Linked DNA regions of Homo sapiens. The protein of the gene in region 1 interacts with the protein of each later gene in a pairwise test. Each region holds a gene or a part of one and is shown in the gene's direction. Other genes may lie near its edges.

Evidence for each region. Proteins that work in one complex are often made in the same cells at the same time.
Region 2: the proteins of CCNYL1 (region 1) and CDK16 interact in binary tests that used the Homo sapiens proteins (3 or more experiments, as listed by UniProt).

What each region holds. Positions count from the first base shown.
Region 1 is NC_000002.12:207,738,523-207,743,078, forward strand, and holds part of CCNYL1 (cyclin-Y-like protein 1), read left to right. Parts: intron 1-2,132; coding exon 2,133-2,184; intron 2,185-3,700; coding exon 3,701-3,820; intron 3,821-4,556. UniProt on the Homo sapiens protein: Key regulator of Wnt signaling implicated in various biological processes including male fertility, embryonic neurogenesis and cortex development. Activates the cyclin-dependent kinase CDK16, and promotes sperm maturation.
Region 2 is NC_000023.11:47,217,188-47,221,480, forward strand, and holds the start of CDK16 (cyclin-dependent kinase 16), read left to right. Parts: upstream 1-1,493; 5' UTR 1,494-1,918; intron 1,919-3,097; exon of another isoform or gene 3,098-4,293. UniProt on the Homo sapiens protein: Protein kinase that plays a role in vesicle-mediated transport processes and exocytosis. Regulates GH1 release by brain neurons. Phosphorylates NSF, and thereby regulates NSF oligomerization. Required for normal spermatogenesis.

The sequences.
Region 1 (4,556 bases):
TATTCTTTAATACTACCCAACACTCCACAAGTGCTAGTTTCTTAAAATGGTTACAGTGGAATTTTGTGTTATCAATGAATTTTTTATTAGTACTCACCCATCTGTCTTGTACAATATATGTATCATTTCCCCTTACTTGGTTTTCTAATATTATGCATTGGTTATATGGAAAATATTGGTTCACATCTCTTCTTTCTTTTTTTTTTCTTTTTTTTGAGACAGAGTCTCATTCCATCACCCAGGCTGGAGTGCAGTGGTGCAGTCTCAGCTCACTGCAACCTCCGCCTCCCGGGTTCAAGCGATTCTCCTGTCTCAACCTCCCAAGTAGCTGAGATTACAAATACATACCACCATACCAGCTAATTTTTTGTATTTTTAGTAGAGACAGTGTTTCACCATGTTGCCCAGGCTGGTCTTGAATTCCTGAGCTCAAGCAATCCGCACACCTCAGCCTCCCAAAGTGCTAGGATTACAGGCGTGAGCCACCATACCCAGCCTGGTTCACATTTCTTGACAGTGGCAAAGCTCACTTTTGTTAGTATCACCACCAATTGTATTAAAAAATCTTTAAGTATTGAGAAGCTGTTAAACTCACATAATAAGGTACAAGTTTCTCCAAATCCTGATTTTTAGTTTGAAAGCTTGAATTTTATCATTGCAACAAATAGTGTTATTTTCTTGAAGTGACAGGCTTCATTTTTTTAAAACTTTTTATTTATTTATCTTTTGAGACTGAGTCTCACTCTGTTGCCCAGGCTGGAGGGCACTGGTGCCATCTTCGCTCACTGTAACCTCTGCCTTCCGGGTTCAAGTGATTCTCCTGCCTCAGCCTCCTGAGTAGCCGGGACTGCGGGCGCCTGTCACCATGCCTGGCTAATTTTTGTATTAGTAGAGATGGGGTTTCACCCTGTTGGCCAGGCTGGTCTCGAACTCCTGACCTCAAGTGATCCACCCGCCTCAGCCTCCCAAGGTGCTGGGATTATAGGCATGAGCCACCACACCTGGCCACTTCTTTCATTTTTGAGAATGACATTTGTACTTTCAAGTAAAAATGATATTCTGTGAAAAAAAAATGGCTTGTTTAGCTCACAATTAAATCACAAGTGCTTTTCCTTAACACAACTCTACCTCGGTATGCAGAATTACTTTATGTGAACTTTCTGCTTACTCCAGAATAGTGAAAAGAAAGGTCAAGATTTAATAATACCATTAATTTTTACTGCTTCAGCAAGGATATTCATGAGTGAAGCAGGTGTTTTTCTTAAACTGCAAGAGGCAGTAAAGAGTAGCATAACTTCTAGTATAATTTGGTAGCACTGCCTTGATTCATGCTGAGAAGCCAGCAGTTTGCCCACTTTTGCTGTTATACACTCATTACAAATGTCATACAGTCAAAAAGCAAGCAATACCTTAGTATTCTTTTTTTTTAAATTATTTTTATTTCTAAATTTTCAATCAGCTTTCTCAGGTTGAATAAGTATTCTTAAAAGAACAGTTTTGACCTCAAGGACCTCTTGGAAAAGGATCTAGAGGGTCTCCAGAAGTCCACAGACCACACTTGGAGAACCACTGGTTTTATTAAATGAGCACAATGTATTAGTTTTATAAACTTGTAAAGATTATCAAAGCCTTGTCTCTTTTAAAATAAAAAGACAATAAGGTTTTTAACTCATCAAACTACTTAAACAAATACATGTCAAGAATGTAATACGGAGAACTAGAAAGGAAAAGCCTGGGAAATCTGAATTTCATTCACAGTCATTAAAGTTCTAAAGAGTTTATTGCCCACCACTACTGCTGTGTAAAACGTTCTTGAGTTCCAATGAGGGGTTAGAAGAGTGAAAATATACTTTATTACCATTGCCTGTTAGGGAGGGCCAATACTTAAAGGCAATTCTGAATCGTCATTGTAGAAAAGACCTCACAGTACAGAACCTCATATGCTGAGTAAAAAGAGGTCAGGAAATCCTCTGAAGGCTGGCATCCCGGAGAAGAATTTGTACAACTCTTTGCTTTGGTGAAGCAAACACCAAAGCAAACAGGAGGCATCTCCCGCCACCCCCAGCAGACATTTTACTCAGATATTAACAATTCCTGAATTAACTTCTTCAATGCATATTCTTATTTTATAGAGATGCAAATAGATCCCTGGATATTTTTGATGAGAGATCACATCCACTTACAGTAAGTGTCACTTTTTTTGAGGTAGTATTTTTCTCTCATAGAGTTGTGTTTATTTCATGCTGATATTTATAAATAGTCCTAACAAATATACATGATCTCTATGAAGATAATTAGAAAACAATTTAAATTTAAATCAATTAAAATGGTGTAAACATTTAAAAATTCACTTCCTCAGGTATATGATAGCCGCTCGTGGCTAATGACTATTGTCTTGGACAGTGAAGCCTTTGAGCCTTATGGTTACAGGAAACTAAAGATATTTTTTCAGGCCGGGCACGGTGGCTCATGCCTGTAATCTCAGCACTTTGGGAGGCCGAGGCAGGCGGATCACGAGGTCAGGAGATCAAGACCATCCTGGCTAACACAGTGAAACCCCGTCTCTACTAAAAATACAAAAAATTAGCCGGGCACGGTGGCAGGCGCCTGTAGTCCCAGCTACTTGGGAGGCTGAGGCAGGAGAATGGCGTGAACGTGGAAGGCGGAGCTTGCAGTGAGCCAAGATCGCTCCACTGCACTCCAGCCTGGGCGACAGTGAGACTCCATCTCAAAAAAAAAAAATTTTTCAAAGTGTATTTAAGAGAATCCTAACATATGATTAGTAAGACTTTCGAGCCTACAAGTAGTTTACATTTTGATAGAATTCTGTGGATAGAAAGTGGAAAGGAACATAAAAATTTTCTGAGTTGTGCCTGTATTTTTCCTTAATGATAAATGGTGATGAGTATTGAATCACTATGATATTTTAAGATCCAATTGTTTATATTTTAAAAACTAAAAGTCATGTCACTCAACCAGAATTATTTTAAGGGGTACATGGGCTCAAACGTCAACACTGCTGGTCTTAGGAGTACTTAGGCCAGCTGGGCATGGTGGCTCACCCCTGTAATCCCAGCTCTTTGGGAGGCCGAGGTGGGCAGATCATGAGGTCAGGAGTTTGAGACCAGCCTGGCCAGCATGGTGAAACCCTGCCTCTGTTAAAAATACAAAAAATTAGCCGGACATGTTGGTGCACGCCTGTAATCCCAGCTACTCAGGAGGCTGAGGCAGGAGAATCACTTGAACCTGGGAGGTGGAGGTTGCAGTGAGCCGAGATTGTGCCACTGCATTCCAGCCTGGGCGACAGAGCAAGACTGGGTCTCAAAAAAAAAAAAAAAAGTACTTAGGCCGGGCGTGGTGTCTCACGCGTGTAATCCCAGCACTTTGGGAGGCCAAGGCAGGTGGATTGCCTGAGGTCAGGAGTTTGAGACCAGCCTGACCAACATGTTGAAACCCCGTCTCTACTAAAAATACAAAAACTAGCTGGGCGTGGTGGCGGGTGCCTGTAATCCTAGCTACTCAGGAGGCTGAGGCAGGAGAATCACTTAAACCCGGGGGGTAGAGGTTGCAGTGAGCCAAGATCATGCCATTGCACTCCAGCCTGGGCAGTAAGAGTGAAACTCAGTCTCAAAAAAAAAAAAAAAAAGCTTAAAATTTTTTTCTTCAGTGGATACTAACATTGCATCTTTTCTTCTTTCAGCGAGAAAAAGTTCCAGAGGAATACTTTAAGCATGATCCTGAGCACAAATTTATTTACAGATTTGTTCGTACTCTTTTTAGTGCTGCACAGCTAACAGCTGAATGTGCAATAGTAACTTTGGTAAGATATTTCTCATTTATAAAGTGTCTTTAGAAATTAGTCTTGTACACAGGGTATGGTCCTATTTTTCAAATAAAAATAGGTTCCTGAAATTATCATCAGAACTTTAAGAGAAACCTATGAAAGGAACATAAATACGTACATTCGCGTTTAATCATCATTATGGTTGAACATGTTTCCATTGCTTTTCTCATCACAGAACAGTTGCTACAAAAGGCAGCCGGGGAGATTTCTGGTTTCTCCCCCTACCCATCAATGCACATGTACACATTCAGTGTGTACACATACAAGGCATGGTGGCAGGGCTGGGGGTGATGGGGAGTGGTAACAAAACCATGTGGTTCAGAGCCAGATACTGATTCCAGTGTAGGTCTAAGCCAAGTCCCAGGCTCTATTCCCCAGGTATTTCCGATATGTGTGGTGATTGAGAACTATTGCCCTAAATTCTTTGTTCCTTGGATGATGGGTTTTAATCATCTCTGCCTACCTCTTGTGCCTGCTCGTGATGTTGCCCAGCAATGTGGTACCAGCAATACTTGGACAAAGGCTTTGCTGATTAGCTTACTAAGCTATAGCTGTGTCCTTAACTTTATGTCCTCCATACAGAATTCCTATGGTAAGATTTTATCATTGAATAATAAATCCTATTCAAGTGGTTAGGATTGTTTTACTCCTCCCCACAGCAAACCTATAGAGGAAGGTCAACTGCATGGCCTGGAGGGAAAGAATACTTAGG
Region 2 (4,293 bases), on another chromosome or scaffold:
CAAAGGGAACCACAGCAAATGCAAAACCCCTGAGGCTGGATTGTGCCCGTTTCACTCAAACAGCTAGAAAGAGCGCTAGTATGGTGGCAGTGAGTCAGGGGAAGAAGAGGAAGAGATGAGGTCAGAGAAGTGATGAGCCTGTTCTATGCCAAGGCGAGGACTTTTATCTTTGTCAAATATTTCCACTCCCATCATGGCCCGGGAAATCTCACTAATGTAAACCTTACTGAAAATCCTAACTGCTGTGATCAAGGCTGCCATAAAGGGAAGCCCGGAAGAGGCGGGGAGGCTGCCTTGGAACAGGGTAGTGTAAGGATGTGCCAGAAGGCCTGCTGGAGGTTGCAGCCCTTTGAGCTGGACTTGGGGATAGTGTGGTTTTCCAGGCAGAAGGAAGTGAAGGATTAGGTCGGCCTGGTAGTACTTGGCACACAACATGCGCCCAATAAATAAAATGGAAATAAAACCGCGGAGTGTTCTACTTGTGTTGACTGACATCAAAACAAAACAAAAAACCCTCAGAGTGAGGGGAGGCACGGGAGGGGCTGTGCCGGGCAAGAGAGGTGGCAGGAAAATCCAACGCACGGCGCCTATGCAAATACTCGTGTGAGGCAGAAAAGAGGCTCCGCCCCGCTCGAAGTTCCAAGCATGCGCAGTAGCGGCTCCTGCGCCTCTAAGGATCCGCCTCTTTCCTTCTTTCTCAGCCTGGGTTCCACCCCGGGAGGCCCGCTGTATGAGATGGAGGGCGGGCTAAAGGCGGGACGAGACTCGATTGAGCGCAATTATGACCAATCACCTTGCGGAATATTCGGCCTATAGCGAAGGAGGAGCTCAGAACAAAAAGGAGACCCCACCCCCGCCGACGGTGAAAACCTATGAAACCTGGGCGGAGGCGTGCGGAGTCGGGTAGAGAGCGAAATCACGCCTCTTCAGTCAGCCACGCCCTTTATTCTTGCTCGGCCTCGCCACAGAGAGCAAATCAGATTGGCTGGGCGACAACCTCAAAGGGCGGGGCTGCACACGTTCACTACGGGAATGAGGTAGCGGTGGAGGGGGCAGTTGGGCGGGGATAGGCCGTCCTAGCTAAGGTGGTAAAGGCCAATAACTCTTCAGGCTGCCTCTCCTCGAAAAGTCATCTTCTCGCGAACCTTTAAAATGCCTTCCTCCCCAAGCACCTCAAGGGACTAGAACTGAGTGCTTCATTTGTCTTTTTTCCTCCTTGCAAAAGTCCCGTTTGCCACCATGGGGATGTACCAAGTGAGACCGAGTAGGGGGAACGAGTGGTGATTGACGCGCCAGGTTACTGGCCACTGCTCACCTAGGCGCTAGCAAACTTCTGCCAAGATCGGAACTGAGTACTAAACAGCCTCCACAGTTCTCCCTGGTGCCGTCTCCGGCTTGGCGCCGCATCCTCCTCTGGGCTCGCGATGGCCGCGTCCCCTCCCGCTGCGGACGGGTCCTTTGGTACATGCAGTCCGAGGTGAGTCCCCTCCTTTCCACTTCACCCTTCCGAGCGCCTGCGTGCGCATGCGCGGAGCGCGGCGCGCGCGGCGGTTGGGCCGTTGGCTGTTCGGCCCTGGGATCCGCCGCCACTCCGCGATCAGACCGCTCTGTGCCGCGAGCCGCCGTGAGCACTCGGATTCAAGCCGGCGCCAACGAGTCCGGGGGCATCGCCCGCAGCGGCCAAGCTCATGGCCGGCTGAGCGGGACGCCGCCTCCGCCTCAGCCACCGCCGCCGCCGCCGCCTCCTCCTCCTCAGCCGGCGGCGGCCCGGGCCCAGCAACCATGGCTGAAGACTACTGGGACGGGCGCCTGCGGCGAACAGGAGGAGAAGGAGGTCGCGCGGCCTCATCCCGGGCCGCCGCCCCAGGCGCCGCCGCGCCGGCCCCGCGGCTCTGAGGTTGCTCGCGCGCCCCCGCCGGTGAGCGCGTCCCCGAGGCGTGGAGGCTGCCCCTCCTCCTTCAGAACCCACCTCGGGCGGTGCCCAGGGGTCTGGGCTGCGGGGCTGGCAGGTGCCCCCACCCCCGGCGAATTTCCCAGAATGCACCGGGGCGGGGGGTCATTTGGGGCCTCCCTGACCTTGGCCCCGCCCTGGGCCTGTCCTGGGAGCTGGGGTTGGGTAGTGCTGTGGGTGCTAATGGGGACCTGGGGGAGTCAAAGGACCAAAGGGTGTGGAAATGGGTGACAATGGGGTGAAAGACTTGGGGGGGTTGCTGATGGGGGTCGGAGCATGTGGCAGTAAGCCTCACGCCAATAAGTCGTGTAAGGTTCAAGGCCCCGTGTGTGCTTGTGGAAGGAGGGCGGGGTGCGGAGCGGGTGAGGGACCCGAGGGTGTATAACGGGGGGTAGGGTGTCGAGGAAGTTCTAAGACATGCTCATAGGGATTATGTCCGCAGAGAGGCCCGGTGTGTGTTCATGGGGGACAGGGTGGCACAGGTACCAGAACGTGTGTTGGTGGGGTCAGGGCTCTGAGGCCTGGTGCGTGGCGATGAGGCCCTGGATGGTGTTAATACTGCGTGTCTGTCCGTGGGGCCTGCAGTGTGTGAGAATGCAGTGTGTGCTTGTGGAGGGCAGGTAGCTGAAGGACTCGAGTGTGGTGTGTGCGCCAGTGGGGGTCATGGCTGTAGAGGGTGTATGCCTGTGGCCTCGAAGGTCTAGGTAGTTTGGGACCCAGTATATGCTAATGAGGGCAGAGTGGAGGAAGGACCTGAGGGTATCTAACGGAGGAAGGACTGTGGAATACCTGAGCCTGGCCTAAAGGAGATGAGAATTGCGTGTCTGTCTGGGCCCAGGAAGGAGTGGTGGGGAAGTGTCTTAGCACTGTCAGAGGCTTAGTGGACGAAGGGTAAAGGTGATGTGAGGTGTGAGTGTGTCCATGGACACAGGGAATGTGAGTCTCGAGGGCACACTAGGAAGGAGCAGGGTAATAGAAGTACTGGTGGTTGCTAATGTGGGTTTAGAGACATAGAGGCACTTCAATGTGTGCCATTTCGAGAGTCAGCTGTGTGAAGTCTGGAATATGCTAATAAGCATCAGAACCTTGTGAAGATTGTGCCCTTGTGTCCGCGGAGGACCAGAGTATGTTGAGGTTCCAGGGGGTGCTACTCGGGGGTAGGGCTGCGGAGGGGATCTAGTGTGTAATAAGGGGGATCAGGGCTTTCATGAAGGGATCTAAGTGTGAACCAACAAGGATTATATCTGTGGAGATATCTCTGAGCAGAGAGCAATAGAGGACAGGAATGTGTGATGATCTCGGTGTGCTAAAGTGGATTACAGCTAGGGAGGGCTGAAGTGTGTGCTAATGGGAGTCAGGGCTGAATGAGACCTGTGTGCACTAATGAGGGTCAGGCCATGGTAGAACAGTGTGTTTGTGTGTCCCTGCGGAATAGGGCTGAGTAAGGGTTCAGGGTGCACTAATGGGGAGGCAGGACTGTGTGAGGCCCGGCGTGTGCTAATAGAAATCAGGCCTGAGTGAAGACTCAGTTTGTGCTGACAGAGGGGACAGGACAGTGGAAGGACTGGAATGTGTGTTAAGGATGGTCGTAGCTGTGAAGGGGCCTGAGTGTGGGTAACACTGGTTAGAGATCTATCTGTAAGGTTCACTTTATGTTAATAGCATTCAGAGCAGCATGAAGAAGGTCCAGTGAGTGCTAATGTGGGTCAGCTATAGAGTACCCCAAGTGCATGTTAATAGAGGTCAGAATCATGTAGGGGGAACAGTACGTTAATGAGGGGAGTCAGTACTATGGAGAAGGTAACAAGCAGCTAGGCCAGGGAGGGGCCCAAGAATGTGGTGGCAAGAGTTACTTAGAGGAGGCTAAGTGTGTGCTGACAGAGTTCAGGGCGGTATGTTATGTGTTAGGGCTTTGAATGCTGATGGGTATATGAGATAATAGCAGGTAAGATGTAGTGAGGCCTCCTTGAGGGTCTAGCGTGTATTAATGGGGATCAGGACATAGGGTGCGATGACCAAGTCCTTAGTGGTTGGTGTGTTGAGTATCCTTGAGTATGAGAGTAGTCTGAGGATGGGTGTATGTCTTTGGGGATCAGGAAGGGTCAGGCAGGACATGTGCCTTTTTTGGGGTAAGGTTTTATGTCCAGTTTCTTGCTCCCTCCTTTTTTGAAATCTAAAAAGCTCATTCAACTGAAATGATATTTAAAAGTTTCCTTGCGTATAAATGTTCAATTATCTCTGTTCACAGGGGCATGTCTGAGACCCCCATCCCCCTTTCTGGGAGTGTTATGTGATATACAGATTTTACACCCCATCTTCCTAAAATCCCAAAAAACTGAACT